Linked DNA regions of Homo sapiens: regions 2, 3, 4 and 5 are each linked to region 1. Evidence: fine-mapped expression QTL. A gene starts in region 1. Each other region holds a variant in brackets. All regions are shown on one strand. Distances are between the middles of the regions.

The links. PIP is the estimated chance that this variant, and not a neighbour inherited with it, causes the effect.
Region 2: its variant is the best candidate, but not a certain one, in a credible set for the expression of ASAH1 in blood mononuclear cells (TOPMed, PIP 0.66).
Region 3: its variant is the best candidate, but not a certain one, in a credible set for the expression of ASAH1 in whole blood (INTERVAL, PIP 0.54).
Region 4: its variant is the best candidate, but not a certain one, in a credible set for the expression of ASAH1 in whole blood (INTERVAL, PIP 0.59).
Region 5: its variant is the best candidate, but not a certain one, in a credible set for the expression of ASAH1 in fetal neocortex (Walker 2019, PIP 0.81).

Annotation. Positions count from the first base shown.
Region 1 is chr8:18,081,246-18,087,328 of GRCh38, reverse strand. ASAH1 (N-acylsphingosine amidohydrolase 1) reads left to right here and starts at 3,222. Exons shown (of 14, transcript NM_177924.5): 1 at 3,222-3,348. The coding sequence starts at 3,271. ASAH1-AS1 (ASAH1 antisense RNA 1) reads right to left here and starts at 2,461. Exons shown (of 5, transcript NR_125429.1): 1 at 2,390-2,461; 2 at 1,844-2,087; 3 at 393-446; 4 at 192-304. It also overlaps the pseudogene MRPS18CP3. RefSeq lists enhancers at 2,240-2,775, 2,576-2,855, 3,656-3,765 and a silencer at 3,106-3,305.
Region 2 is chr8:18,052,986-18,058,934 of GRCh38, reverse strand. It overlaps ASAH1 (N-acylsphingosine amidohydrolase 1), which reads left to right. Exons shown (of 14, transcript NM_177924.5): 13 at 44-100; 14 at 1,312-2,943. The coding sequence ends at 1,401. Among named protein-coding and RNA genes, the nearest start is that of ASAH1, 28 kb to the left of the region's middle. RefSeq lists an enhancer at 4,746-5,319. The variant C/T (reference allele first, on the strand shown) is at 2,333.
Region 3 is chr8:18,060,464-18,066,546 of GRCh38, reverse strand. It overlaps ASAH1 (N-acylsphingosine amidohydrolase 1), which reads left to right. Exons shown (of 14, transcript NM_177924.5): 6 at 2,016-2,090; 7 at 3,317-3,362; 8 at 4,124-4,268; 9 at 4,807-4,861; 10 at 5,089-5,170. Among named protein-coding and RNA genes, the nearest start is that of ASAH1, 21 kb to the left of the region's middle. The variant G/AAG (reference allele first, on the strand shown) is at 3,077.
Region 4 is chr8:17,831,911-17,837,993 of GRCh38, reverse strand. No RefSeq gene overlaps it. Among named protein-coding and RNA genes, the nearest start is that of MTUS1-DT, 34 kb to the right of the region's middle. The variant A/G (reference allele first, on the strand shown) is at 2,529.
Region 5 is chr8:17,926,787-17,932,869 of GRCh38, reverse strand. All of the region lies in intron 2 of PCM1 (pericentriolar material 1), which reads right to left. Among named protein-coding and RNA genes, the nearest start is that of PCM1, 6.8 kb to the right of the region's middle. RefSeq lists an enhancer at 6,078-6,083. The variant AAG/G (reference allele first, on the strand shown) is at 2,767.

The DNA.
Region 1 (6,083 bases):
ATGACTATCACCCAGAACCACTTTCATTCAACATATGTAAAATGTGATGAGTGTTAACATTTTAAATAAGCGATCTGCTTAATGAACACTGATTGGTATGAAGGGGAAGTGTCATTCTTTACCTCACTCCTGAAACACTTTTCTATCCAAAGGTTGGTTTGAGTCAGTATTGGCGTCATACAACCACTTACTATAAAATAAGTTTACTGGTGGTAATGTGATGGAATTTATTCCGGATATCTGATGTTATAAACTTTAGGGTCCCTGAAATATGCAGGATCCTTGTATGTAACTGGCATAAACCCTGTAAAGAGATAATTAAAGTTCTTGACAAAGCATAATGAGCAAAATTTCAGCTAGCTCAATACAGTTGTTGAGGTGCTCTTTCTTACCCATTGTTTGAGCTCTCTTAATTGCTTTTGTGATTTGTTTCTTCCCACAAAGACCTGTAAAATAAAAAGCTTCCTTATTCATAAAAAAGTCAATATTTAAAGTTAAAAAAATGTTTATTTCTCAAACTGAAACATTATTTCTCTATCTCTTGACCTTTTAGTACACGTTTTTGTATATTCGGTTTTACTAAATCAAGTCAAACCTGTTCCAGGTAATGTGATGTTATACATGATAGGTTTCATTTAGGGTGGGGTGGCTAAGTTGCAACCCTTTTAAATCAAGGCTCCACCTCAGGAACCTAGGAATGTTAGGTAGGAGATGAGGAAGTCCACAGCTTGCCAAGAACTTCAGCTATTCCATAAACAATCTGATTACATATCCCGACTCTTGCACACGAAACAGGTTATCCAAGTCTTAAACTTGATGCTTTTGTGCAGTATGAACCACCCTTTCCGTGGACATAATCATGCATTTGCACATTTAAATACCATTTTCTATGAACAGATCAGTATGCCAAAAACCACTGCAAAGTCTCCTACACACACCTTGCCTTGACTTTCTGTACATTTCTAGTATTAAAGAATGGTGTAGGCAAAATAAAGATATATGTGTAAGAAAAAAAAGACATGCATGAAATGGTTTAATTTTAGGGAACTAGATTTATATTTTATCTGAAAAGAGTATTAATAATATATAATAGACCTTTGAAAGTTAGACGCATAGTTCTGCGAAAGTGGTGCCTAAGAATAGTATGTCAATTGACAAATTTTTTCCATAAAGAATCTGATTTTGCTAGACTACCTAATCACCAATTAACATCCTCCAGTAGGGAAAAAAATATGCTTGGTGACATGTTTAAATCGCTCTCAAGAGTACTGAAGATGAATGATCTTCCAATCAAGTAGCTATTTGATTTAGTAATAACAACTAAAAGATGGGAATCCTCTTCTTCGCACACTCATTTTAAGCTCCAAGGTAATTCCATAGATTCAACATTTAACACGTATATTCAATATTACACATTTTTTTTCCGGAGTGAAATGGCTCTGAATGCCTTACAGAATTTGCCCTGCTCTCCTTAACTAAATACTTTGTCTATTAATACTTCTTTCTTCTTTTCCCCTTGTTCTTTCTGTGCCAGACCCACACACGTCTGCTGTAATTGAACATGCCAGGCACATTCTCCATTTAAAGCCTTTTAACAGCTGCTGTCTCTGCCTAGAATACTCTTACTTGGGCACACACAAAACTAGCTTCCTGGTCTCCCTCAACTGTCTGCTCAAACTTCACCTCCTTAATCATGTCTATCTGTCCCTCTTATTTAAAATTGTAACTCTACCACTTCTGATCTCCACACTTGATGCCCCTGGCCTCCCTTTTCCTCCACTGCATTTGTCACTAACATCCCGTATAATTTTCTTAGGTATTATGTTTATTGCCCATTTCTCACCGAGAACATACGCCTCAGGGTGGAAGAAGTTTGTCTTTTTGTTGTTGTTCACTGCTTATCCCCAGTGTCAGGAGACATGCTTGGCACATTGTAGGTCCGCAGTAAATATTTTTTGAATTAATAAAGAATATTTCTACCATCTGCTAGCTTACTGTTCATGCAGGAGCTCAAATGTGCTTTAAGCATGTGATATGTTTCAAAAGTCAAACTTCATCCTTAGGGAGAACACTGTCATCTTCTCCTCCTTTAAAAAAAAAAAATAGGAAAAAAAGCAAAACAAAACATCACCTTCTCATTTCCCCACCTCCAACAAAAAGAGTGTTGAGTTTTCTAAAGAAATAATACAAATGGATAAAACTGCAATTTGTTGTCCTTTCTCTCACATGCAAAAAGAAAAGAAAAAATACTGCCGAGATTTCGGCAGCGTGCTGAGCTTCATCAAAGCATTAAAACAATGCTGCTTGAGACGTCAGAGGCTCATCCAGGAAGTGCAACCCAGAGGGCAGGATTTCCTGCTGGACTTTGAAATCCAACCCGGTCACCTACCCGCGCGACTGTGTCCACGGATGGCACGAAAGCCAAGCGAGTCCCCCTGCCGAGCTACTCGCGTCCGCCTCCTCCCAAGCTGAGCTCTGCTCCGCCCACCTGAGTCCTTCGCCAGTTAGGAGGAAACACAGCCGCTTAATGAACTGCTGCATCGGGCTGGGAGAGAAAGCTCGCGGGTCCCACCGGGCCTCCTACCCAAGTCTCAGCGCGCTTTTCACCGAGGCCTCAATTCTGGGATTTGGCAGCTTTGCTGTGAAAGCCCAAGTGGGTAACCAACAGCTTGGAGGACCCGAGTGGATTCGATTCTCTCTCACTCCTCGGCCACTCAACTGCTCCTTGTCCCTGACTCCGCGGTGGGGATGAATAACTCAACTCATTTCGGGCCGCTTTTCTCAGAGGGCAAAGATGGGTCAGGGTGGGATGTTACATTAGTGTTGAGACTCTTTGGATCCGTTTCGTGGGTACCGAGGACGCCTGGGTACGCGGGACAGGCTGCACCCGCCTGCTAGAGGCGCCCCATCGAGGCGCCACGGGTGAAGCTCCCGGCCCCACCTACGGGGCGGGGCTCCGGCTCGGTCCGACTATTGCCCGCGGTGGGGGAGGGGGATGGATCACGCCACGCGCCAAAGGCGATCGCGACTCTCCTTCTGCAGGTAGCCTGGAAGGCTCTCTCTCTTTCTCTACGCCACCCTTTTCGTGGCACTGAAAAGCCCCGTCCTCTCCTCCCAGTCCCGCCTCCTCCGAGCGTTCCCCCTACTGCCTGGAATGGTGCGGTCCCAGGTCGCGGGTCACGCGGCGGAGGGGGCGTGGCCTGCCCCCGGCCCAGCCGGCTCTTCTTTGCCTCTGCTGGAGTCCGGGGAGTGGCGTTGGCTGCTAGAGCGATGCCGGGCCGGAGTTGCGTCGCCTTAGTCCTCCTGGCTGCCGCCGTCAGCTGTGCCGTCGCGCAGCACGCGCCGCCGGTGAGTGAGCTTGAGCCGAGGCGCAGAGAGGGGCGTGCAGGTGCGGGCGCGGATGGAGGCGCAGGTGTGGCGGCGCGAGCGGGTACAAGGAACACCTCGTGCTGGGCAGCTTCTTTACGGGGGTCTGTGGTTTCGTGCACAGGGGTGTGGGTGCAGAGCGGGCTGGCGAACCCCGTCCTCGGTAGATTCGGTGCTACCTGCAACTAGAACTCCTTTAAAGGAAATCCTAGTCTCTGCAGGATACCTGGGTGTGATTCGCACATTCTTAGATTTGAGTGAGTGTACTTGAATAACCAGTTCCAGGCCCTTGCATTTTGAAGTGTTTAAATAAAATGTTCCGGTGGACCTGTGTGCATTACTCAATCAAGGACAGACTGCCTGATGGTCAGGTGCTTTCTCCCGAAGAAGTTCAGGAGTTCAGCCCAGGATACTGCAGGGCCGTGGGAAACGCTGAGTGGTCCCAAGCTTGGGCGGTGCGAGCAGCCCAGAGCAGGCCCCAAAGGGCCCCCTGTGGCCTTTTGCACCCAAGTCATGGGATCGCCTGTCCCGTGGCTCTTTCCCACGAGCAAGTCACAGGGCTACGGACTTCCTAACTGCAAGAGACAGTGAGGGACGAGCGTGACTCTTTCATTTTACAGAAGAGGAAGTAGACCTAGAGTGAGAAAATATTTAGCCAGAGGTTACACTGTTGTTTACTGAACATGCGTAACGTCCGAGCCTCTTGACGCCCAGTACTCTTTCATAATTCATTTCTTTATAAAGCAATCAGACTGCGTTTGTCTTTGCCAACAGAATCGGATAAGTAGGAACCTGGCGCATCTGGCCTGAGGCTAGATGGTGATGGTCTTGAATAGTTTAGGTAGGTTATTGAAAGTGGAAGCAAGATGTGCATTGTCTTCTTTTATACCTGTAAGGAGAAATTCTTTAAAATCATGGTGGGATATGATTTAGCCATTAAAATTGATATAATGTTCAGCAGATAAAAGTAGAATCCAGAATAGTATATACAGTTTTTCCTGTAATAGGAAAATACACAGAACATGTATGTGGACACGATTAAAGGCCTTAAAATAAAATTGCTCCATTGTGGGTAGGGAATTAATTTGCTTGACGGTAGTTGGTTTTATGGGAATTGGGAGAGACTTTGATACTTTGATACTGTCAGGGCCCTTCATTGAAAGACCACCAGGAACACACCATAAGCTGAACAAATTGGGTTTAGTGTTCTTTGAGGCAAAGGAGACCACACACCATGAGCGACGGACGGTAGGTTATAGAAAAAAACCCATTACAGAATTTGAACTTCGGTTGCATGATTTGGGGTAAGACTGAGGAACCGGGCTTTGCTGTAGATAGAATGCTGTTAGAAGGTGGGGCAATTCTGACTGAGTAAAGAAGGAACAGCCATTCTGTTTAGCACGAGAAGGGGATGTTTGGTGTTTTGTGCGTTGCAGGTGCCCTTGTTTTTGTCTGTTCTTAGAGAAAATCTTCAAGTGGCATTGCTTTGTCTTGGTGTGTCATGTCTCAGAATAATCTTATCCGACGTAGGTATCTGTGGGATTGTTGATGTCCAGGAGGAAAACAGAGCTTACCTGGCTGTGAGTGTCAGATCGGCTTGTAATAATATTGAGAGATAGCTGTGGGACTCAGAGCAGTTTCAGGTGTTGGAGGCTGTTTTTTCTTCTTTCTCAATAGCTTTATTTATTCTAGCAAAAGTATTTTGATAGCTATTTTCAGAAGAAGAATTAACAACCTCTCAATGGATATAATAGTTCTTATCTAGAACAGCGATTATCAAAGTCTAGTCTGGCCACTGGTGTCACTTTGGGAAGCTGTTTTCACAGGTTTTCAATGAAACTGGAAAAATAAGAATGCAAAACTAAAATTATTAATTTAGAATGTTAATCTTTACTCTGATTGTATGGACTTCAAGTTTTCATTGTTGCAAACGTGTTCTTAAAAATAACGGCAGAGGTAGATGTTATGTGCATGGAATTTGTTTTGTTTTAACATCTCCATTTGGCAGAATAAAAATTTGGACCCTCCTGTGCCAAGGCCTCATTAATTTTTTTTTACTGGCCTGGAAAATCCTGGGATCCATGCACTGAAGGACCTTTAGAACCTTACAGAAGTTTAGTGACTTCATTCTCTGAGAAGAATAAGCAGTTTTTCAACTGGAGTCATTATATGATAAACTATAGCCTCATGGTAACAAAAGATATTTCAAAAGTACTTTCAATAAATATGAATAATGAGAAGCAGCTTTAAATTGGAAACAAGTCATTTGATTTAGAACATCTGTAAGGATTTTTTGTGTGTTTGTTTTTGAGGCTTTTCACAATATTCCTATGTGAAGGTCCTCCTGAGTTATTCTTCATTATTGAATTTTTTAGGAGTCTATTAAGAGATGATGGTGAAGACAGTGGCACAAGAAATGTCTGGAGAGATAGCGCCAGATGACATCATCCAGGGTTCTGTAGACTCTTATTAAGGATTCAGAAATTTATCCTAAAAAATGGGAGGATCTGGAACCAGCCAATGGGAGGCCATTAGATGGTTTTAGACAAGATAACATTTTCACTTTAAAAAGATGAGTCTGGATTGGAGGTCAGCAAGGGTAGATATGAGGAGACTAGTCCAGAAAAGAAAACAGGGTGCGTTGAAGGATGGTGGCGCCAGGGGTGAGGGAGAGAAGTAGATGTTCTAGAAAAAAATCAGGAGGGCGAATGAGCTGA
Region 2 (5,949 bases), 28 kb after region 1:
CTGTATTTAACTTACTGAACAAAACTATTTTCTTGTGTTTTAGAATATCTCATTTGAAACCATGTATGATGTCCTGTCAACAAAACCTGTCCTCAACAAGGTATTTTAAATGTTATATGTATATTTGCCTTTTAGGGAAAGAATTTGGCCCTATGTTTTATCTTTCTCTGTTATCTTTGATCAGTTTGAGCACAAAAGGTGTGTTCAGCTTAGGACTGATTTTTTATTAAAAAATGTTTTTGTGTGGCTAAAACTGTATTTTGGAATACAAGAAAGAAATTGATCACTGAGGCTTGATAGGTCAGAATATTGTTTATAGCTTTATTTACATAGCATTTGAATTAAGGCTAGCATTTTACTCTTATTGGTATCTATTAAAAATCTCACACTATATAACTAACACCTAAATGTCAACAAAACAAAGTCTGCAGTCCATTTTCAGACAGAGCTCTGTGTCTTGGTGGGTTCGGGTTTCCCTTAAACTTTACTACATCTGTTTATCTTTTCCCTACACTGTAGTTTTAAAAAAATGCAAAAAGTTTCCTATCATCCCACCACTCGCTAACAATCATTCCCTGAACGTTCTGAATATGCCCCCCTAATTTTCCCATTTGTTCCTTCTTTTCTTGGTCCTTCTCCACAGCTCTCCCTAAAGTAAACATGCCGCCTTTACCCTGCCAGGACAAATCCCTCCGGCCTTTAGCATCCAGGTCACCCTGGCTCTCACAGGAAGCCTGCCTTCAGTTCACGGGCCCTGCCATACTTGCGTTTTGCCTATACCATCTTTGAGCAAGTCACAATCTCGTGACTTGTGTTTGGGTGTGTGCCTTGTGATCTGGGTGCCTGCAGTTTCCCCCACTGTATTGGAAATGCTTTAAGGATAGGGATAGCCAAAGCTCCACGGTTTTTACTCCATAGGACACCGGCAGGTCTCCCAGGACTGCCAGCTGTGCGTCAAGGAGGGTTAAGGCAGTCTTAAAGCATTGGGGGTGGAGCAATGTGCTGTCAGGAATAAGCTCCTATAAGGAGCTGGAGATTCTTTCCTGAGCCTGTTTATATTCATTACCTGAAACAGTGATCCTGTTGAAGTTGTTTGCTTTAGTTATTTGGTGAGACTTTAGCTAATTTTATATGATTATACTATATTAATATAAATATATACATTATATAACATGCTTTGCATATATTAAGTTATATTATTTAATATTAAATAACTTCTAAAGCAAATTCTACAAGTATAGAAATGCTAATATATATCAGAACATCTCTGAATTGAAAACGTCCTTAAAGTAAAAATAACTTTTCTTTCAGCTGACCGTATACACAACCTTGATAGATGTTACCAAAGGTCAATTCGAAACTTACCTGCGGGACTGCCCTGACCCTTGTATAGGTTGGTGAGCACACGTCTGGCCTACAGAATGCGGCCTCTGAGACATGAAGACACCATCTCCATGTGACCGAACACTGCAGCTGTCTGACCTTCCAAAGACTAAGACTCGCGGCAGGTTCTCTTTGAGTCAATAGCTTGTCTTCGTCCATCTGTTGACAAATGACAGATCTTTTTTTTTTCCCCCTATCAGTTGATTTTTCTTATTTACAGATAACTTCTTTAGGGGAAGTAAAACAGTCATCTAGAATTCACTGAGTTTTGTTTCACTTTGACATTTGGGGATCTGGTGGGCAGTCGAACCATGGTGAACTCCACCTCCGTGGAATAAATGGAGATTCAGCGTGGGTGTTGAATCCAGCACGTCTGTGTGAGTAACGGGACAGTAAACACTCCACATTCTTCAGTTTTTCACTTCTACCTACATATTTGTATGTTTTTCTGTATAACAGCCTTTTCCTTCTGGTTCTAACTGCTGTTAAAATTAATATATCATTATCTTTGCTGTTATTGACAGCGATATAATTTTATTACATATGATTAGAGGGATGAGACAGACATTCACCTGTATATTTCTTTTAATGGGCACAAAATGGGCCCTTGCCTCTAAATAGCACTTTTTGGGGTTCAAGAAGTAATCAGTATGCAAAGCAATCTTTTATACAATAATTGAAGTGTTCCCTTTTTCATAATTACTCTACTTCCCAGTAACCCTAAGGAAGTTGCTAACTTAAAAAACTGCATCCCACGTTCTGTTAATTTAGTAAATAAACAAGTCAAAGACTTGTGGAAAATAGGAAGTGAACCCATATTTTAAATTCTCATAAGTAGCATTCATGTAATAAACAGGTTTTTAGTTTGTTCTTCAGATTGATAGGGAGTTTTAAAGAAATTTTAGTAGTTACTAAAATTATGTTACTGTATTTTTCAGAAATCAAACTG[C/T]TTATGAAAAGTACTAATAGAACTTGTTAACCTTTCTAACCTTCACGATTAACTGTGAAATGTACGTCATTTGTGCAAGACCGTTTGTCCACTTCATTTTGTATAATCACAGTTGTGTTCCTGACACTCAATAAACAGTCACTGGAAAGAGTGCCAGTCAGCAGTCATGCACGCTGATTGGGTGTGTACATCTGTGTTGGTTTGGAGGAGGGGGGTTATTATCAAGAAATACAAGCTGAACATCGTATCTGAATTAAATAACAAGGGTTATGTAAGTGGGTTATTAAATATGACTAAACGGTCACAATCTTACTCTTACATGACTGATACCACCTCTTAACCAGATACTATCAACCCAATTTGCAGGTGTTTAAAGGCAGTTTTTCCCCCAGATAGGTGGTGCTTCCACAAAACTTTAGTGATTCCAAGATTACTTTAGTGAAACGAGGAATTATAAGAGGATTTACATTAAAATAGGATTTAATTAATGAAAAAAAAACTTTACTCAGATTTTCTACCTCTTACATAAATGAAGTCAGGTCAACTTGATGTATTTTTTTGTTAATGTAATAACCTTTGATATGCCTGATAGTAAAGAGGTGAGATGCTAATTGTTTCAGACCGATTTCTCCGGAGTAAATCAAAGTTTACAAGAAATAACAGGTATTAAGATTTTAGGAAGTAATTGTTTAGTGGTAAAGCAGTTTTAAAATAGGATATACAGGATGAGCCTGTTTATATAACACTTTATATATGTACTTATGCATAACTAGATACACATCTAGAATATCAAAAGATGACTGGGAGGATATTAACCAAAATGCTGACTGTAGTTCCTACTGGATAATGGCAAGTGCTATTTTAATTTTGAGAGGACAAAACTTAGTAGCCATTGGACATTAATGAGACTCTATTTTTAGAAATACTATAAAAAAATAAGGTCCAGGTTGGATCCAAACCATGGGCTCCATCTAATTTCCCTGCCAAGTTTTCGGGAGTTTGATTGTGAATGGAAGGCTGAATCCTACCTGTATTCCTTCACACATCGAGCTCCTCAGTCACTCATCTTAATTAGAGCTCTTGCTTATCCATTTATGTACCAGGCCTTGTGATTGATAAGGTGCTTGACCTAGATTACCTCCTCAGCAAACCCCGGTATCACTTGTAATCACACTTGCCAGCCATGGAAGTAACTTGCTGAAAGTTGCATTAACAGAAGGGCTTAGAGCCAGGGTTTTAGCCAGGTCTGTCCAACTCCTGCGCTCTTATGACACCCGAATTCTTGACTTTACAAGTAGGATTGAGAAACAGCTCTGTCCTATGAGACCCACACTTCTGCTGCCATGGACCAGGCCACCCTGCTGAGCCTGGACACCACTGTGTCACTGCCTTCTACTTGTTCTGTGTCAATTATTAATGTTCCCATAGGGATCAGAAACCCTTTGGTGTTAGGAGCTGACAGGTCACCTGTTTTTGACTACCCTGAGTCTGAATCGTGCTCAGCTTGTGGGGAATGCGTTAAGAGCTCCTCAGTCTTTCTGTGGCTGTGACCCAGGAGTACGTGAAAAATATGAATAGTTCAGAAATTTATAAAAAGTCACTATAAAACCTCACACAGTCATTATTGAAGTTAGTCTCACAAAGTGAAGCATAGTTTTTGTTTATTGGTGACAATTTACAAAATACTTGCCAGCTTAGCCTCACATATGACAGATGTGACCAGCAGGCTCCAGACCACACCGAGCTGCATGCTGGCCCCGTCTACAAGCCTGGGGAAGTGTGGCTGGGCTCCTCAACCTTCACAACTTGGGGAGGTTGCTCAGCTCACATGAAAATCAGTCCTCTCTTTTTCCCTAGGGCACTCTGTCCCTCTTATGTTGATAAAGTGGGTTTCCCAGCCAGGTGGCACAGGGGATGCTAGACTGGTGTGCGTTGGGCAATTCTCTGTGGCAGTTCTGGACATCTTCAAGGATGCTTGTCTAGGCAGAGGACAGATTTGTTTCCTGACTACGGTAATAAAGATCATCATCTACCTGTAGGGCAAAGGTTGGATGAGTTGATTGGAGAAGCAGCCCATCTTATAACTCGAGGGGTTTCCTGAGCTTGGGGTTCCTCAGCTGTGATACAGATGATACATCATAAATTGGGTTGTCACACATCACCTCCTTGGGGGACTTGGGGTGGGGGGCAAATGGCATTCCCAGAGCAATACAGTCCTTTGCCTTTGGCCCAGGAGTCTGCCAGCATCCAGGAAGCTGTGGCAGGCTAGGTCATTAGCTTGCAAGCAGGGTAAAATCTCAGGCCCTTCACAGGGCCGCAGCTTTGGGGCAGCTGGGCAGGGTCTAGGCATACCAGCCTCCAGGCTGCCTCCCACAGCCCGGGCTTCCTCTGGGGCTCCTTGAAGGGCAGACTGGGACAGTGATACGGTTTGGGCCTGTGTCCTCACCCAAATCTCATCTCGATTTGTCAAGGGAGGGACCAGGTGGAGTTGATTGGAGCATGGGGGTGGTTTCCCCCATGCTGTTCTCGTGATAGCTAGTGAGCTCTCACGAGAGCTGATGGTTTTAAAGTGTGGTGCTTCCTGGTTCTCCGACTTGCTTCTCTCCTGCCTTGTGAAGGCGTCGTCTCCCGCCCTCTTGCCTTCTGCCACGATTGTCAGTTTCCTGAGGCCTCCCCAGCCATGCGGAACTGTGAGTCGATTAAACCTCTTTACTTTATAACTTAGCAGTGCGAAAACGGACTAATACAGACAGAGTGGGATAGACTGCATCCCTCTGTGTTCTCACAGGCTGGGAAGGGAGGTGTGGGGCATGCAAGGTATGGAGAAAGTTAGTAAAAATCACTGGCCCTGTGGACCAGAAGAGACCTGGGCCAACTAGGTTTTGCCTCTGTCAAATACAAAATCCTCATAAGGAAACTTAACCATTCAGCCCTCACTGGGGGCCCCCCCAATTGTTTTTCACCAAGACCCAAACTTGGCTTGGTCGTCCCGGTCGTCAGTGGCAGCAATAACACCTGGAACTTGTTGCTCCCATTGCAAGGTTGAGCAATAGCAGCTGGCCTGCAGATCTCACAGACAAGCGGCCTGTGGCACAACTGGAGTTTATGTTCCAGGTGCGCAGAATGCCGCACACAGCCCTGCTGCAGAGGTGGGAGGGAGGCGCATAGGCACTGCGGTCTCCTGGTGGATTCAGCTCCAGGCAGCATCCCAAACATTCACTTCACATGTATCTGATTACTGTGTCCATTTGTAGCTGACAGGCCAATTTGGAGGCATCTCAGCTGGCTGCCTATGACTGTTGTTAACAATTCAAGTGCTTTCTGCAAAATAGGGCATTGTTATTTTAAAATACTTCATTGGAATTTTTTGTTTTGTTTTGTTTTGTTTTGTTTTTTTGAGACAGAGTCATGCTCTGTTGCCCAGGCTGGAGTGGTCCAGTGGCGCCATCTCGCCTCACGGCAGCCTCCACCTCCCAGGTGCAAGCAATTCTCCTGCTTCATCCTCCAGAGTAGCTGGGATTACAGGTACCCACCACCACGCCCAGCTAAATTTTGTATTTTTAGTAGAGACGGAGTTTCACCGTGTTGGCCAGGCTGATCTCGAACTCCTGACTTCA
Region 3 (6,083 bases), 21 kb after region 1:
GTTAGTGTCAATCTTTATTTGAGCCTTTTTGTTGAGTGTCGCAGTATCGCATTTTAGTTTCAATTTGCATTTCCTTGATGATTAATGAGATTGAACAGTTTATTGACTTTTTTTTTTTTTTTTTGGTTTTCTTTGTTTCTTTTGGAGAAGGGCTTGTGAAGGTCTTTTGCCCTTTTAAAAATTAGATTGAAGGAATTTTTTACATACTTTGAATATAAGCCCTTTGTCAGATATATGGATTCTGAATATCTGCTCCCAGTCTATGACCTTCATTTTTATTCTCTTACTTTTGTCTTTTGATGAACAGAAATTTTTAATTTTAGTGAAGTCTAATATCTCAGTCTTCTCTTTTATGAGTAGTGCCTTTTGTATCCATTTAAGGAATCTTGGCCTACCCCAAAGTCATATATATATGCTTATATATTTTCTTCTAGATGTTTAATGTTTACTTTTTACATTTAGGCCTATCATCTATTTTGAATTATTTTTGTATATGCTATGACTTATGGGTCAAGCTTCAGGTTTTTCTCATGTGGTATATCCAGTTAGTTAAACAGCATCAATTCAAAAGGCTATCCTTTCCTCAGCAAATTGCAGTGGTGTCTTTGATATAAATATACAATACATATATATATACACACACACACACACACACACACACACAATGTGTATCTGTATATACAATCAGGTGATTGTATATATGTTGTTTTGTTTGGGGAATTAAGTTTCATTTACATATTTGTCTTTTTGTCTTCCCTTATATCAATACTATTTCACCTCAGTTACTAAAGCTTTATAGTAAGTCTTCAAATTAGGTGGTATAATTCTTCCAACTTTGTTTTTCTCAATATTTATTTAAGTTACTGATTTCTCTGAGCAGTATCTTTTATTTTCAGGGAGAAGACCTCACATGCCATTCGTTAAAATTATTCTTAGATATTGATGGTTTGGGAAGCTATTTTTAAAATTTCAATTTAAGCTTTATGGCATGTAACGAAAAATATTTTCCCCACGACCCCAAAAGTTTTATCTTTAAGCTAGCAAAGCAGTAGTGTCATTATTTTAAATAGCCAACAGTACCTTCATTTTATGAGATGATTGAGAATTTGTGAAAATCAGTAGTATTTATCAACAAAAGTGGCTAGTTTTGTGTGCTGCTTCTTTAAAAAACTCATTTAAAAGATAGCATACTGGAAATATGTACTTGCTGCCTTTATGGAAAGCAAGTCTAATTCCTTTATTATGTAAAGAACTCTAGCAACTCAATACCAAATAGAAATACCTTATGGATTAAGAAGAATAACATGATGTATAAGTGGTGTAAATTTATATAATTATTATAAATTATTATAAATGTATAATAAAATAACTAGAATTTCACCAAATTAGAAATTTAATGGAAATAAAATACACATTGGATTTGGGTGAAAAAAACATGTTGAGCTTAACATGTTAATGTTAAATGGGACAGAAATACAATGTGCTGCCTACTTTTGAATTAAATGCTAAATAGCAGTATTATACATTTTGGGAAAATATTCAAAAAATAAAATACCCTAGAATGGAGTTTCTTGGCAGCTCTGTACTAATTTTAATAGTTCTTGAATCTCCTTTTTCACCTTAGAAATTTTAGTCACACTTTAAAAATCTGGGCAAAATATATGTCCAGCAAACAGCCAAGAGCCAGATGTATTAAATGATCATATTTACGCTCCCAAAAGAAAATTCAAAATGAAGCATGTTGATAAACATTTTGGATGTGATGTTGGAGAACAATTGCAACCTGCCCAGATGTTCAGCTCGCCCGAAGGCTGCCTCCTTGGTGACTTGTTTCATCTTGAGTCTAGAGAGTCCAGGCTGGGGAAGAAAACCACCTCCAGCCGGCCGTTCCAGCACAGCCCCACTGGCCAAAGCACACACTCACACAATGAAAACACTGAAACTTTTTCTTAAAACAAATTTTTCTCCCATTGTCATGGTTCTGTATATTAACACAAAATTTTCTTTTCTCATAGGAGAGATTATTTCATTCAATATTTTTTATGAATTATTTACCATTTGTACTTCAATAGTAGCAGAAGACAAAAAAGGTAATTGTGCGCTGAGGGAGGGTGGGCAGCATGAAGCACTACATAAAGAAAAATCTTCTAAATGAAATTAGAACTTCTGAAATTTGGGCTTGCTATGTAAATTCTGTGTATGTTGCATACAGCTTTTTATTTCTTGGTAAAATTTTGTGATTGTACTGAAAATTTTCCTTATTTTCAGACTACTGTACTGCCTATTAAAGTTGATTTCAGACATGCAAAAAACCTGGAAGAAATGTTGCAGGGCTAGAAACATTCTTCTCTTCCTCATAGTTTACTTCTACCCATCTACATGCTTTGATGGAAGTGCTCGCAGGAGGTGCTTCCTTATCTTCGTGTATGTCATGACATCTGTCCTTTTCTTGAGGCCCAGAACACACATTCTCCCATCCTTTCCCAGCCAGGCAACCCAATGGATACCAGCCTCACTTTCCCGTATTTTTCCTGACTGGTTCCCAGAGTACAAAGCACAGGACAACTTCGCTAACTCACCCTGATCTTTGACCTATACTCTGGGTATAAATCTGCCTGTACCTTACCCTTGAGATGTCCTGCTCTAGGGGATGATGCCTGAAGGGAAACATTTGATGAATCACAGTAATTGAGGCTCCGATTTCTGTGTCCTGGTAGAACCATGTGATAGTGAACCAAAACATGACCATTGATTCCTTTTCCCATATTCTGATCTTACCTGGAAACCCGTGCTCTCAGATTTTGTGGGGTTATCTGGCAGATAGACGGTGACAACAGTCCCATCTGGTGAAGGCTTAGGATATTAGGATGTTTCTTACTTCTTATTGTTTGAAGAAACAGTTGTGAATAAAAATTAATCAAAATTAGAGGCCAGGCACAGTGGCTTACACCTGTAATGCCAGCACTTTGCGAGGCCGAGGCGGGCGAATCATCTGAGGTTGGGAGTTTGACACCAGACTGGCCAACATGGTAAAACCCCTTCTCTACTAAAAGAAAAATACAAAAAAAAAAAAAAA[G/AAG]TAGCCAGGTGCGGTCGCACATGTCTGTAATCCCAACTACGTGGAAGGCTGAGGCACAAGAATTGCTTGAACCTGGGAGGCAGAGGTCGCAGTGAGCTGAGATCGCACCACTGCACTCCAGTCTGGCCAACAGAACGAGACTCTGTCTCAAAAATAAATTAATTAATCAAAATTAATTGTCCAGCTTTGATTTAGAATCTTAACTGCTATTACACGTCTCTTCTGTCTACCTTCAAATAGGTCATCTAATACATGGGAGAAACATGGATTTTGGAGTATTTCTTGGGTAAGTAAAGAACAAAGGGTCAGGCATGGTGGTTCACGCCTGTAATCCCAGCTTTTTGGGAGGCTGACACGGGTGGATCACGAGGTCAGGAGTTCAAGACCAGCCTGGCCAAGATGGTGAAACCCCGTCTCTACTAAAAACATAAAAATTAGCCAGGCATGGTGGTGGGCATCTGTAATCCCGGCTACTTGGGAGCCTGAGGCAGAGACTTTTTTGAACCTGCGAGGCGGAGGTTGCAGTGAGCCGAGATCGCGCCACTGCACTGCAGCTTGGGATACAGAGCCAGACTCCATCTCAAAAAAAAAAAAAAAAAAAAGAACACAGAACTGTTTTGGTCTGTAGGAAGAGTAGGTTGTGTTATATTGATGATAAGTAAGTCCCAAGTCACACCCAAAATGTGATCATAAGTGAAGATAAATGGATTGCTTGAGTGCTGAGACAAGAGGGACATGCTCTTCTATTTTATGTGTCCATCTTGACCTTTCTGAAAAAATAAGAATATTGTAATTAGCATTCTATGTTTGAATCTGAGGCTCACTATTTATAAGCTGTGTGATATTGAGAGAGTTACCTGACTTCTCTGAACCTCAATTTTATCATTTGGAAAACAGAATAAATATACCATATTGTAAAGGTCTTGTTAGGATTGATCGTGGTGACTCGGTAAATAAAGCTCCTAGTGTAATGCCTGGCCCTCATCATCATGTTGATCATTACTATCACTGTGTTTCTGAAATGTCACTGAAACATGTCTTTTATAGGTGGAACATAAATAATGATACCTGGGTCATAACTGAGCAACTAAAACCTTTAACAGTGAATTTGGATTTCCAAAGAAACAACAAAACTGTCTTCAAGGCTTCAAGCTTTGCTGGCTATGTGGGCATGTTAACAGGATTCAAACCAGTAAGGAGTCTGTTGTTACATAATTATACAGGTAGCCTTCTGTCCTGTTACCGTTATGTAAAAGTTGAAATCTAAGAATATGAGGACCTAAAGGGAATATGAAGCCCCATTTCACCCCCTTGTACTTCTTGTCACTTCATAGGTATGAGATCTCGTGGTAGAGAAGAGTAGAAAGGAAACGGAGGTTTCTGAGCCTCTTCTGGGATAAAGAGCATGTGGCTGGGTGTCAAGGGCTGGGAGTCACAATCTGATTTCTAGTCCTGGGTCTTCCGCTCACTTAGGCAAGTCAGGCGTTCATTCTCTGCCCTTCAGTTTCCTGTCCAAAAAGCGTTGCCAGTGATACCCCACCTACTTATCTCACATACTAGAATCAAAAATGCTTTGAACTTTTTAAAAAGCCTTTTATGGTTTTGATTTATTTTTGCCTTCCCCATTACCCAAGCTAGGCCTTTATATCCCACTCTGAAGTACAGTGAGCGACAGGGCCTTAAAGCGCATGGTTGATGTTTCTGACTTCGTTGCTTTGTCTTTTTCTCAGGGACTGTTCAGTCTTACACTGAATGAACGTTTCAGTATAAATGGTGGTTATCTGGGTAAGTAGAGCATTCTCAAGTGAAATGGGAATCTCAGAGCTTTTTTATGAGGAAGGCTGGACTGTGCCTTCTGGTTACAAAGTCCAACCTCTTCCGGTTCCCGACTGGTTACAAAGTCTAACCTCTTCTGGTTCCTGACTGGTTATATAGTCCAGCCTCTTCCGGGTCCTGACTGGTTACATAGTGTCACCTCTTCCGGTTCCTGACATTGTGTTCATCTCTTCCAGGTATTCTAGAATGGATTCTGGGAAAGAAAGATGTCATGTGGATAGGGTTCCTCACTAGAACAGTTCTGGAAAATAGCACAAGGTAAAGTGTTTCGTTGCTTTACTATTAAATATTTATTTTAAATTACTCATATTAAAAAATAAAAATATTTGTCAAGCTCCAGCTTAATCCTTTGAGGAACTATTGCAGAATTTCTTAGGTGAACCTCTGACACTCATGTGGAATTACTCATGTTTTCTTCGTGCAGACTGTGTGTTTTATAGCAAATAAATGAATTACTTAAAAAGCACTAGGGATACTGACATTATGAAAGGCACCTATGAATATTTTTGGTGTACAGAAAAAAAATGACCCACACACAAAAGAACAGTCATACAGTAAAATCTTCATTTAAATGGTAGTACAGACCAGGCACAGTGGCTTATGCCTGTAATCCTCACGCTTTGGGTGGCTGAGATAGACAGATGACTTGCACCCAGGGGTTTGAGACCAGTCTGAGCAACATGGCGAAACCCCGTCTCTATAAAAAATACAAAAATTAGCCAGGCATGGTGACACGTGCCTGCCTGTAGTCCCAGCTACTCAGGAGGCTGAGGTGGGAGGATCACCTGAGCCCAAGGAGGTCGAGACTGCAGTGAGCTGGGATCAGTCCACTGCACTTCACCCTGAGTGATAGAGTGAGACTCTGTCTTAAAAAAACAAAATAAATAAATACAAAATGTACTACATATTAACCTGTAAGTTATATCTTGCCTTGGTATAGAAATCTTACAATAGCAAAACTGCCTTTCCTTCATTCAGCCAGCACTGCGTCCAAATAAATGGGCATCAATCCTATTTTTAATACTTCCCAGGGAATAAGATTTAATGTTAGTAGTGTTCTTTGATAACCCACTTCAATTTTTAATAGTCCTAATTTTCAAGAAGGTTTACTTTCTGTTCTCTAAGTCCTACATACTGTAATATTATTTCCCTTTGTTCTGTTGTTGAGTGA
Region 4 (6,083 bases), 250 kb after region 1:
CTCAAAGGTATATGGTTTCAACACTGGTGGGCTTTTCCACATTTTGCAAAAGAGATGTGCTTTCTGGAAACTTCTTAAAATAAAGATTTGTTTTGCACTTACGTTCTTCCATTAAACAAATGCTAATACTGTATACTAACAATGTATTTTCTTTTTAGTTGACTTTCAAAAATCTCATTTAAACAATTGAATATATAGAGTTATCACCAACACCAGGTACTATTTCCTCTATATTATTTTCCAAAAACTCATTCTTCTACCAATGCCACACTTTCATCTTAGAGAGCTGGTTGAGCTTTTGGATTAAAATTTAAGCCATGTGTTGTTCATCCAATAATGCTAGAATTTATTCCAAATTACGCTGAAGGCCATTTGCTTTTTGCCTCCAAGCATCAAGAGTTATATTGAAACTCCTTTCAAATTTACTTCTATTCTGTTTGCCCACATCTGGCATAATGCCAGTTCATTTTTAACTCAAAAAAACAACCATGTTCTCTTCTTTCCTCTTTTAGCAATATTACCATCCTGACACTTGATCCCTGCAAGCAATTATCTGATTTCTTCACGTGTCCCTTTAATATTCTTTAAAGGAGTCAAAGCATTTAAAATAGCCCTTTTGTCTGTGCCAAATGTTCCCAGCTGTCTCAAAATATGAACCAAATTATGTACCAAGGGATTTATCTTTTGAAAATGACATCTACAGTAGTGATTCTAAATTTCCTAACTTAGAATTCAAGGCCCACAATATCCTGCTTTTTCAGAGCTATCTCACTTGATTGAGCTTTCCACCCCATAAAGATTGTCATTTTTAGTTTCCTGTATCTTTGTGGTATATTTCTTTTTCTGTGTCTTCATGAAGGCCGTTCTGCTATGCTCGTCTATCAACTTGTTTCCTACTCCATCTCAAGGTTTTGCCATGTGATCGAAACCCTCCGAGAATAAGATGCTTTCTAATTTGTATGTAGGTACATTTCATCTTATTGACCTCTATAGCCATCCTGTGATATAAAAGCATAAGCATGGTTACCCATGTTTCAGGTGAGGAAATTGAGGCCTAGAGGGCTCAGTCATCCTGGATTCTTCTGCATTAACAAGCTGCTCTACTCACTTGGCAGTCTGTACTGCCTCACAATATTACCTTTGTACATATGCATGACTTGTCATCATAACTGCATCTCCAAGGCAGTTCATCTCATTGTTCCTTGTATTCTCCCCTGTGACTTGAACATAAAAGGAATTCAGTAAATATTAGCTGTTCGACTTGTTAGAAGCCAAGAGTCATAAAACTTTTGGCTCAAAGAGAGCCTTTGTGATTATTTAATGAATCCTTGAGTTTGTCAAACTGGTTTGAAGTCTGTATAGCACTGGAGGTAATAGGTACAATGCCATTCCTTTTGTTAGAAGACATGAGATAAAATTATTTTAATTTTAAATAAATACTGACATATAATGGTATGGAATATTAACATTAAAGTTGTAAAATGAATCATAAAACAAGTTTTTTAGACAAAACATGAAACTTCAAAGAAACTCCAGAGAAATATCAGAACTGTAATTAGCTGTTTCAGGCTATCCCAGGCTTCTGGAGGTGGGAGGAGGGGGTAAATATTGAAGTCTGGAGAGGTTAAGCAAATTGCCCTAAATCACACATTAATTCAATCAATATTGATTCAGCCCCCACTACTAATTGTGTAAACACCAAGGTTGCAATGACAAGCAAAACAAGACATTGACCACATAAAGTTTGTATGTAAGTGGAGGTGAGAGGAGGACAGCGTTGTTAAATTAATATTCAATATGCATAAACTATATAAAGCAGCCCCTCTCTTGGTCAGTCCAGCAGAAAAAAACTTTATTGCAACTCTTCAGAAAATACCCAAGAGAGTCCATCTTATTGCAAAACAGAAAAGCTTTAACATCTTTTCCTGTGTCTTACATTCTCAGTGTTTCTCTTTCCAGTTACTCACTGATAAAAATGAATTTTCCTAAGTTCTTCCTGACCGTTGGCCCGAGAAGTTCTTAGCTCTTTGACCTCTTACTCCTATCTTTTCCTCTTCTTCCATCTGTTCTATCCTCAATGCAAATGAAGCTACCTCCTGGCGAGAGTTTTCTTTAGTGATTGTGGTGGTGGAAAAAAATATGAAATCTTATGAATTGGTTTTTTGTTCCTGTTATATTTTTTAGTGACACAGTACAGTAGATGTAAAAATGCAGAGAATTTGACTTAGGCTGGGGTTAGGGAAGAATCCTTTGATGAAATAATCTTTTAAGGGAGGCTTGGACAGTTAAATGAGAACCATATTAACAAAGAAAATGACGTAAGAAGATTTCAGGCATAGGGATCTTAGTCAAGGAGACTCCAAGGTAGGAAGACACAGGGAAATGACAAAAGGCCATTATGGCTAGAATACAAGGCAAGAAGCTGCCACGAAGAACCTGGAGAGGGAGAAAGGAGTCCAACGATCCAAAGCCTCGTGGACCACATTTAGGATTTGATCTCCTTCTCTGAGAGCGTTGAGAAGCCATCG[A/G]AATGAAGCAGGGCCGGGCGCAGTGGCTCTTGACTGTAATCCCAGCATTTTGGGAGGCAAAGGCAGGCGGATCACTTGAGGTCAGGAGTTCGAGACCAGCCTACCCAACATGGCAAACCCCATCTCTACTAGAAATGCAAAAAGTAGCTGGGCATGGTGGCACACGCCTGTAGTCCCAGCTACTTGGGAGGCCCAAGAATCGCTTGAACCTGGGAGAGAGAGATTGCGGTGAGCCGAGATCATGCCACTGCACTCTAGCCTGGGTGATAGAGTGAGACTCTGTCTCAAAAAAAGGAAAGCAGGGCAGTGACATGACCAGATTTGCATTCTGATGCAAAGGATTGGTGGGGACTAGAAATTTGGGGAGAACAATTGATAGGTTTCTGTTGAATTGAGATCATGTCAGGGGAGATGGAAAGCAGAAAACTTCCGAAGTTCTTTGGGAAGAACTGGTCAGGACTTAGTGATAGATTGGATATGGATGTGAAAGACAGAGAGGTCAAGGACAACTTCTAAAACCTCTGGCTTCAGTAACTGCATGGATGATGGTGACACACATGAAGAGAGGAAAGTTAGAAGAGCACCAGAGTTTGCAGGGTAATTTTGAAAGTCAGATGGCTTAAAAATGAGACAGAAAGGAAAAAAACAAAGGCAATAGTGATTTTGCCCCAGCAAGTCATGAAGCTTCCATTTTTTCTTGAAATTCTTGCTTGAATGATTTATTTATTTATTTATTTATTTATTTATTTATTTATTTATTTGCGACAGAGTCTCACTCTGTTGCCCAGGCTGGAGTGCAGTAGCACGATCTCGGCTCACTGCAAGCTCTGCCTCCCGGGTTCACGCCATTCTGCCTCAGCCTCCCGAGTAGCTGGGACTACAGGTGCCCGCCACCACGCCCAGCTAATTTTTTGTATTTTTAGTAGAGACAGGGTTTCACCATGTTGGTCAGGCTGGTCTCGAACTCCTGACCTCATGATCTGCCCGCCTCGGCCTCCCAAAGTGCTGGGATTACAGGCGTGAGCCACCGTGACCGGCTTGAATGATTTTTTATATCCATTTATCTCCTCAATAACAATCTAAAAGGCACATAGAAAGCACTTTGAATTTAATTTGTTATTTTTTCATTGACATTGAAAGAATGACATATACATGGTATCATTTAGTTTAATAAAATAGGTAGGAAGTGAGCTCATTCTCAATTTTATATATTATATTATGAAATGTAAGTTTCGTGTATGTTCATAAAATGAGTAGGTAAGAGATATTCAGGGTATCTGTCACCATATAACAAATCACTCCAAAACGTAGCAGCTTAGGAAAAACTATATTATTGTATTACTATTTCTCATGATTTTGGGGTTCAACTGAAATAATGGAGTTATTCTCTAAAGCTTCCATAGTCACATATCTGGCTGGTGAGTTGATGCTACTGAACTTTTGCCTGGGACACCCACGTGATGGAACACAGTCACCTCTCCATGTGGCCTCAGTCTCCTCACAGTGTGGGAGTTGGGTTCCAAGACTGATCGTCCTAAGAGAGCCAGGCAGAATCTGTGTTAACTTGTAGGACCTAACCTTAGAAGTCGCATGGCTAAACTGCTATATCACAGGCCTGTCTGGATTCGAAGAAAGGGAATATAGTCCCCATCTCTCAAAGTGAAGAGTGACAACTTGCATGATAAGATGAGCAGGTAGAACGGGAGGTGTTGTTATAACCATCTTGGCAAAAACAATCTGCCATAACAGAGAAGAGCAAATGGAAGTACACTCTTCTTTGCTGGACAGTATCTATAATAGCACTTGGGACCAAGTAAGTATTTGTTCAATGAATGACTAAGCAACTAGAATAGGATACACTATCTTCCAACTCTGATTCTTGTTTATTACTTTTCATAGTTACTCTTTGGCTAGAATCTTAAGTATAAAGAGAACTAAACTAACGGAAAAAACTTCAGATTGAATAGTCTTATGAAGTTCAGATTTATTATTAATATATTATATATTTATTTATAAATGATATATAAATAGTATATTCAGTGGCTCATGCCTGTAATCCCAGCACTTTGGGAGGCTGATGCGGGAGGATCGCTTGAGCCCAGGAGTTCAAGACCAACCTGTGCAATATAGCGAGACTGCATCTGCAGGAAAAATAAAAAAAAATTAGCTGGTCATGGTGGCATGCACCTGTCGTCCCAGTTTCTCAGGAGGCTGAGGTAGGAGAATTGTTCAAGCCCAAAAGGTAGAGGCTGCAGTGAGTAGTGATTGAACCACTGCACTCTAGCCTGGGAGACAGAGCAAGACCCTGTCTCAAAAAAAAAAAGTATGTCTAATTACTTATTAAGTATAAGTTTAGTCTTCATATTTTTAAATATTCTAATTCATCTGAAATAAAGTATTGTAAATTCACCTTAAGAGTAAAATAATAAAAATATAAATTATTATAATGACAAATATTTCATTTCAGTGGTCTGGTGGACAGAGACTAAATAGTTAGAATAATCAATGTGGTGGGCTTAATAATGGCCTCTTAAAATGTCCATGTTCTAATGCCCAGAACCCATGAGTGTGCCCTTATACGGCAAAGGAATGTCACAGGTGTGACGAAGTTAAAGACTTGGGGATGAGAAGATTATACTGAATTAGCCCCATGGGTCCTAAATATAATCACAGGTTTTCTTCAAAGAAAGAAACAGAGGGACAAATTGGACTCTGTTAGAGCAGAAGGCAAAGCCAAAGACATATTGGAGAGAGGGAATGGGAAAGGGAAAGAAAGAATTCTCTCCTGGAACCTCTCGATGGAACCAGTCCTGCTAATAGCTTGATTCCAGCCCTTTAAGACTCATGTTAGCCTCTGACCTCCAGCATGGTGACAGAATAAATTTGCGTTGTTTTAAGACACTAAATCTGTGGTATTTTGTTACAACAGCCATAGAAAACCAATACAGCCAACAAAATGATAAAATGGGGAAAAAAATTTGCATTTGAAATAATTCAAAGCCACATGTTCTTCAGCTGGCATAAATAGGAAATAGATACAGTTAATTTAAAATGCTGAATAAAGATTATAGGTATTAAAATGAGTGTATATGATTGCAAAACCCTATGCAATCTATGTTAACATTTTTCCTTTTGAGGCTGGTAGTGTAGTAAACAACCTTCCTCCTTCCGTTCCTTCTGTCCTTCCCTCCCTCCCTCCTCCCTTCCTCCCGCCATCCCTCCTGATATAGTTTGGATGTTAGTCCCTTCCGACGCTCGTGTTGAAATGTAATCTCCAGCGTTGGAGGTGAAACCTGGTGAGAGGCAACTGGATTACAGGAGTGGATCCCTCATGAATGGCTCAGCGCCATCTCCTTGGTGATGAATGAGTTCTTGCTCTGAGTTCACTCGAGATTTGGTTGTTTAAAAGTGTGTGGAACTGGAGATCCTTATGTTAAGTGAAATAAGCCAGGCACAGAAAGACAAACATCACGTGTTCTTACTTATGTGTGGGATCTAAAACTCAAAACAATTGAACTCATGGACGTAGAGAGTAGAAGGATGGTTACCAGAGGC
Region 5 (6,083 bases), 150 kb after region 1:
CCAACTGAGAAAGGCTGCCTTATATCATACTATCAAAATAGTCAAAGATTAAAACAGAATTTTAAACATCAATTAAGATTTTAAAAAGACAAGAAAATTGAATGGTTTTTAAAAACAGAGAACTTACTAAATTTAGAACACAAAGAAATAAAAAATAAAAAGTTCAACAGATTTTATTCACATAAAAGTAAATTCCTAAGTGTGCTGAGAATAGTAAATGAGAGCTTGGGAGAAAAAAAAATCTCAAAGAAATACTAAGTATAGTTAATACCTTTGTTATACAGAGAATTTGTTTTAAAAAAATAAAACCGGAGAAATATAAGCAAAACAAGTAGTTTGCAAAAAAAAATACGAATATATAAAGTCCAGCTGCAAATTAAAATAAGAAACTATTAAATTTGCTAACTTTCATATAAATTACATATTATCTAATCCTAATGACAGTAAAAGGAAAATGGAATTCTCAGACACTACATTGAGAATATAAACCAGTATAACATTTCTGGAAAGCATTTTGGCAATACTGTATCAAGAACTAAAACTGAATTTTTGACGCAGTAATTCTACCTCTCTATATGCAATCTAAGAAAACAACCTTAAATATGGTGGAAAGAACTATAATGAAGTTGTTTATTACGCTATAATTGTGATAAATTAAAAAACAACACTAAATGTCAAATGACAAAATCAATGCTATTAGGCAAACTGTACTACACTTGCTGGGTAGAATACTAAGTACCCTTCAAAATATGTAATTATGAAGCCTGGACAATATAACCTGTCGGTGTATCATGGAAAAAGTAATATAAAAAAGTAAAAAAGCAGTATGAAAAATTATACATAAATTTTTTTAAACAAAAGCTAAGAAACTTTATTAAAGTGCTTTCACAAAAGCAATTATTGGTTACAGGGTAGGCACTGGTGATTTTTCTTCTTTTTTTCTGTCTCATATTTTCAGGAACAGTTTACGTAATTATTTATACTAGAAATATATTTTAAAACTTTAAAAAATAATACCCATAGAAGTATATCCAGTGAACCAAAATGACTCATTTAAATAAAACATTTTGCAACTACTGTATTCTACATATACTGACATAATTTGTAATACTGAAGAATAAAACAGCCAGGCAACAGAAGTGATGCCATATTTAAAAGTACTAAAAGCAATTGTTTTGAAACGTAAATTGGAAGGGAAAATTAAGATATTTAAGTCAAAATTATTACATATCATTTTTATCTTAAAAGAGTATGTTAGCAATACTTTCTATTAATAGAATAATGAAGTAATAGTAAAGTAAGATAAATGTATTAAGAATATATCTGGGCCAAGGTCGGCGTTACCACAAGGTCAGGAATTCAATACCAGCCTGGCCAACATAACGAAATCCTATCTCTACTAAAAATACAAAAACTAGCCAGCCATGGTGGCACACGCCTGTAGTCCTAGTTACTCAGGAGGCTGAAGCAGAAGAATCAATTGAACCCGGGAGGCAGAGGTTGCAGTGTGCTGAGATCACGCCACTGCACTCCAGCCTGGGCAAGAGCAAGACTCCATCTCAAAAAAAAAAAAGAATATATCTGGAGAAAGAATGTTTTACGCATTCTATTTCCCTATCACAATAAATTCCCCCTAAAATGCAGAGCTTGTTCCAAAGACCTATTTCTGGCTAACGACTTTGAACACTACTAAAATAAGTTTCTAAAACAATTTTAAAACTGTACACTCTAATTAGTTTGGGAAAAACAGATGATTTTTTTAGTATTTTTTAAAACAAAATTTACTAAAGTCTAATCTATCAGGTTGGCAAAATGAACAATTTCATCCACTGTTACACTGTGATTGCCATAGGGGGTAGAATACTTTGTAACTTAATGATGACACCAAATGTGTTTAAAAGGCACAGCATTAGTATGCCTTTAAAAAGTAAAACTATTAGTATGAAGCTAAAGAAATAATTGCATATGGATGAATTCTTTTTTTTTTTTGGAGACAGAGTCTTGCTCTGTCACCCAGGCTGGAGTGCAGTGGCGCCATCTGGGCTCACTACAAGCTCCGCCTCCCAGGTTCACGTCATTCTCCTGCCTCAGCCTCCCCAATAGCTGGGACTACAGGCACCCGCCACCACGCCTGGCTAATTTTTGTTGTATCTTTAGTAGAGACAGGGTTTCACCATGTTAGCCAGGATGGTCTCCATCTCCTGACCTCGTGATCCGCCCGCCTCGGCCTCCCAAAGTGCTGGGATTACAGGCGTGAGCCACCGCACCCGGCCACATTCACAACATTTCCCAAAAATACTAAGTATCTCCCTCATAAGAGTAATGGCATGTTATTTCTCTTCATGTCAACCTCTTTAACCACCTAAATGTCACCATTACAAATACAGAATCTCTGCCTTCTAAATTTTATTCTGTAAACACATTAATATAAACTAGTACTTACAAGTACAGAAAGTATTCCAGTAACGGTCAGGCGCAGTGGCTCACGCCTGTAATCCCAGCATTTTGGGAGGCCAAGGCAGGCGGATCACGAGGTCAGGAGATCGAGACCATCCTGGCTAACACGGTGAAACCCTGTCACCTCTACTAAAAATACAAAAAATTAGCCAGGCGTGGTGGCGGGCACCTGTAGTCCCAGCTACTCGGGAGGCTGAGGCAGAATGGTGTGAACCCAGGAGGCGGAGCTTGTAGTGAACCCAGATAACACCACTGCACTCCGGCCTGGGCGGAAGAGCGAGACTCTGTCTCAAAAAAAAAAAAAAAAAA[AAG/G]GAAGTATTCCAATAACGAAAAGACTAAGGATGTACAGAATACCAATTCAAGCAAAACTGCTGTGCAGGATCAATAGGAGTTGGTGACTATAGTCCCCACCTTATCTGCAGTTTTGTGTTACAGGATTATAGTTCCCCATAGTCAACCATGGTCAGGAAACTGGTGAGTAAAGTACGTTATTTTGAGCGACAGAGACCACATTCTTGTAACTTTTATTACAGTATACTGTTGTGACTATTCTGTCTTATTAGTTATTGTTAATCTCTTACTGAGCCTAATCTATAAATTAAACTTTATCACAGTTACATACATACAGGAAATAACATACACATAGAGTTTGGTACTACCCACAGTTTCAGGCATGCACTGGGGGTCTCTGGAAGGTATCCCACACAGAATAGGGCAGACTACTGTATTACAACACGGGCGATAAAGAAGCAGAAGAGTTAAAGGATAGTAGAGTTAAAAGATAAAGGATAAAGGTTGCTAGAAACTGGGTATGTGACACACAGTTAAACTGATCAGAAAAGAAACAAGTTTTCTTTGTTGAGAGAGGATGATGATGAGTTCAAGTTTTAGAAATGGAGAGTTTGATGTGCCTATAATACACCCAATAAAATTGTCCGGTTGACAAATAGCGATCTATCTCTCAACAGAGAAATCTGGGCTGGAGAGTCATCCACTCAAAAAGTGGGACAGAGGACTCAGGGAGACGATAAAGAGTAAGAGAAGACCAGATCTTAAATACACTGGTATTAAATAGAGAGGCAGAGGAAAAGGACACGCTAATACACTAATAAGGTACAGAAAGACAGGAGGGAAACCAGGAGAGCCTGCCAAAAGGGGAAAAGTGTATCAAGTAGAATGTGATAAGAAACCAAACAGTTACCTTGCCAGATAAGAGAAGTACTGAGAAGTATCCTCCTAGATTTAGCAACAAGGTTACTGTTGACTTTGGTGAGAAATTTCAGCAGGGGTAGTGAGGGTCAATTCCATAACTGGAATGTATTATTGGAAGGAAGAGGGAAAAAATAAAGAAAGTCATTAGCTAATATTTTTAAGGAATCAGCCTATGATGAGAAGCAAGCACAGACGGTCATAAGGAAAGTTTTATTAAAATAGAAGTATCTTGAGTACGTTTACAATTTGTTGGTAAGGAGGGAGATACTGGTCGGGTGCGGTGGCTCACGCCTGTAATACCAGCACTGTGGGAGGCTGAGGTGGGTGAGTCATCTAAGGTCAGGAGTTTGAGACCAGCCTGTTCCAAACTGCGAAACCCTGTTTCCACTAAAAATACAAAAATTAGCCAGGTATGGTGGCACATGCCTGTAATCCCAGCTACAAGAGAGGCTGAGGCAGGAGAATCGTTTGAACCCGGGAGGCAGAGGTTACAGTGAGCGGAGATAGTGCCATTGCACTCAGCCTGGGCAACAAGAGAGAAACTCCGCCTCACTTTAAAAAAAAAAAAAAAAAAAAAAAAAAAAGAGGGAGATACTAAAAATGCAGAAGAGAAAGGAGATAAGCAACTAGCATGTGGGCTCTGAGAAAGCGGGGGCCATTGGGGTCTAGAGCAAAAGACAAATGATTAGCTTTAGAGAGGAAGAAGAACATCTCTTTAATTGAAAAAAACCAAGAAAGGATGGAATGGGTTGGAGGCTGCTTAGCAGATGTGGTGGTAGGAAACCAAAGGTGTTCCTAAGTGTTGTGAAGTAGGAAGGACTGTACATTAAATGTGAGGGTGAGACAGCAGTGTCTGAGAGAGCGTAGAAAAGTAGGGAATGGAGAATGACCGTGGGCAGCACTACGGACTCAGGGAAACGAGAGACTATTCACTCATATAACACATACTACAGATATTTTTTTCCAGCAGTGCTCATATCCCTCAATATAAACACTCCACTGAATCCACCCAAGGTTGAAATTTTGCCATGCAAGTTAAACAGAAAGACAGTAAGATAAGAAAGTTGAAACTGTAGGAAAACAATTGGTAGAAGTGATTGATGACAGTACTACGGGTAGCTGAACGGGGATAAAAATAAAATCCTTCTACTTTAAACACGCACTTCTACTCATGCTATGCCTTACTAAACGAAGTTGAAACTGTTACTTTCAAGTTTCATTTAGCTATTTTTAACAGCCTTAGTGGTTTTTTTTTTTTTTTTACAAAGACACAAAAATGAAAATATACTATGGCAATTTTAAGCTACTTTCAATGACTTTTTTTTTTTTTTTTTTTTAAGAAAATCCTGTTAGGCTGGGCGCGGTGGCTCACGCTTGTAATCCCAGGACTTAGGGAAGCTGAGGCGGGCGGATCACGAGGTCAGGAGTTGAAGACTAGCCTGATCAACATGTTAAAACCCCATCTATATTAAAAATACAAAAATTAGTCGGACGTGGTGGCACGCGTCTGTAATCCCAGCTACTAGGGAGGCTGAGGCAGGAGAATCACTTGAACCTGGGAGGCAGAGGTTGCAGTGAGCCAAGACTGCGCTGCTGCACTCCAGTGGGTGCCAGAGCAAGACTCCATCGCCAAAAAAAAGAACATCCCGTTGCAGGATTCTAACTATAGAGACATATTACAGTAGAATATCACAGTATTAATTACCATGAAAATACCTATGACTACAGTTTACCTTTGAAATAAGAATATAAGGTAAAGAAGAAATTCAAAGTAATCAAATAATCAGGCTGGGTGCAGTGGCTCACACTTGTGATCCCACCACTTTGGGAAGCTGAGGCAGGCGGATCACTTGATTCGCCTGGTCAACATGGCGAAACTCCGCCTCTACTAAAAACGCAAATATTAGCCACGTGTGGTGGGGCGTTCCTGTAATCCCAGCTGTTTGGTAGGCTGAGTAAGGAGAATCAATTGCTTGAACTCGGGAGGAGAGGGATGCAGTAAGCCAAGATAATGCCACTGCACTCCAGCCTGGACAACAGAGCAAGACTCTGTCTCCAAAAAAAAAAAAAAAAAAATCAAAGTGATCAGTAACGAAAAAAATTATTTTTTTCTCAAATGGCATTAAATTACTCATAATCACCTCTGAAAATATCCAAGATATGCCTGTACTTTTCCTGACAGTAACTGGCGCATGGTTTCACTTTCTACTTCATTCCCTGCTTGCATGAACTAAACACTTGCAATGACTTTTCTAGGACTCTGGCCTCAATTCCAATATCCATCTCATCTTCTCTATTCCAATACTGAACTGATAATTTGTTCAGGATCCTGAACTTCTGAAGTTCCTCTTTCTGATCATAAGTTTTTGCATTCTACTTCTCTCACTTGATTCCTGCTGAAACTGCTCTTAGCC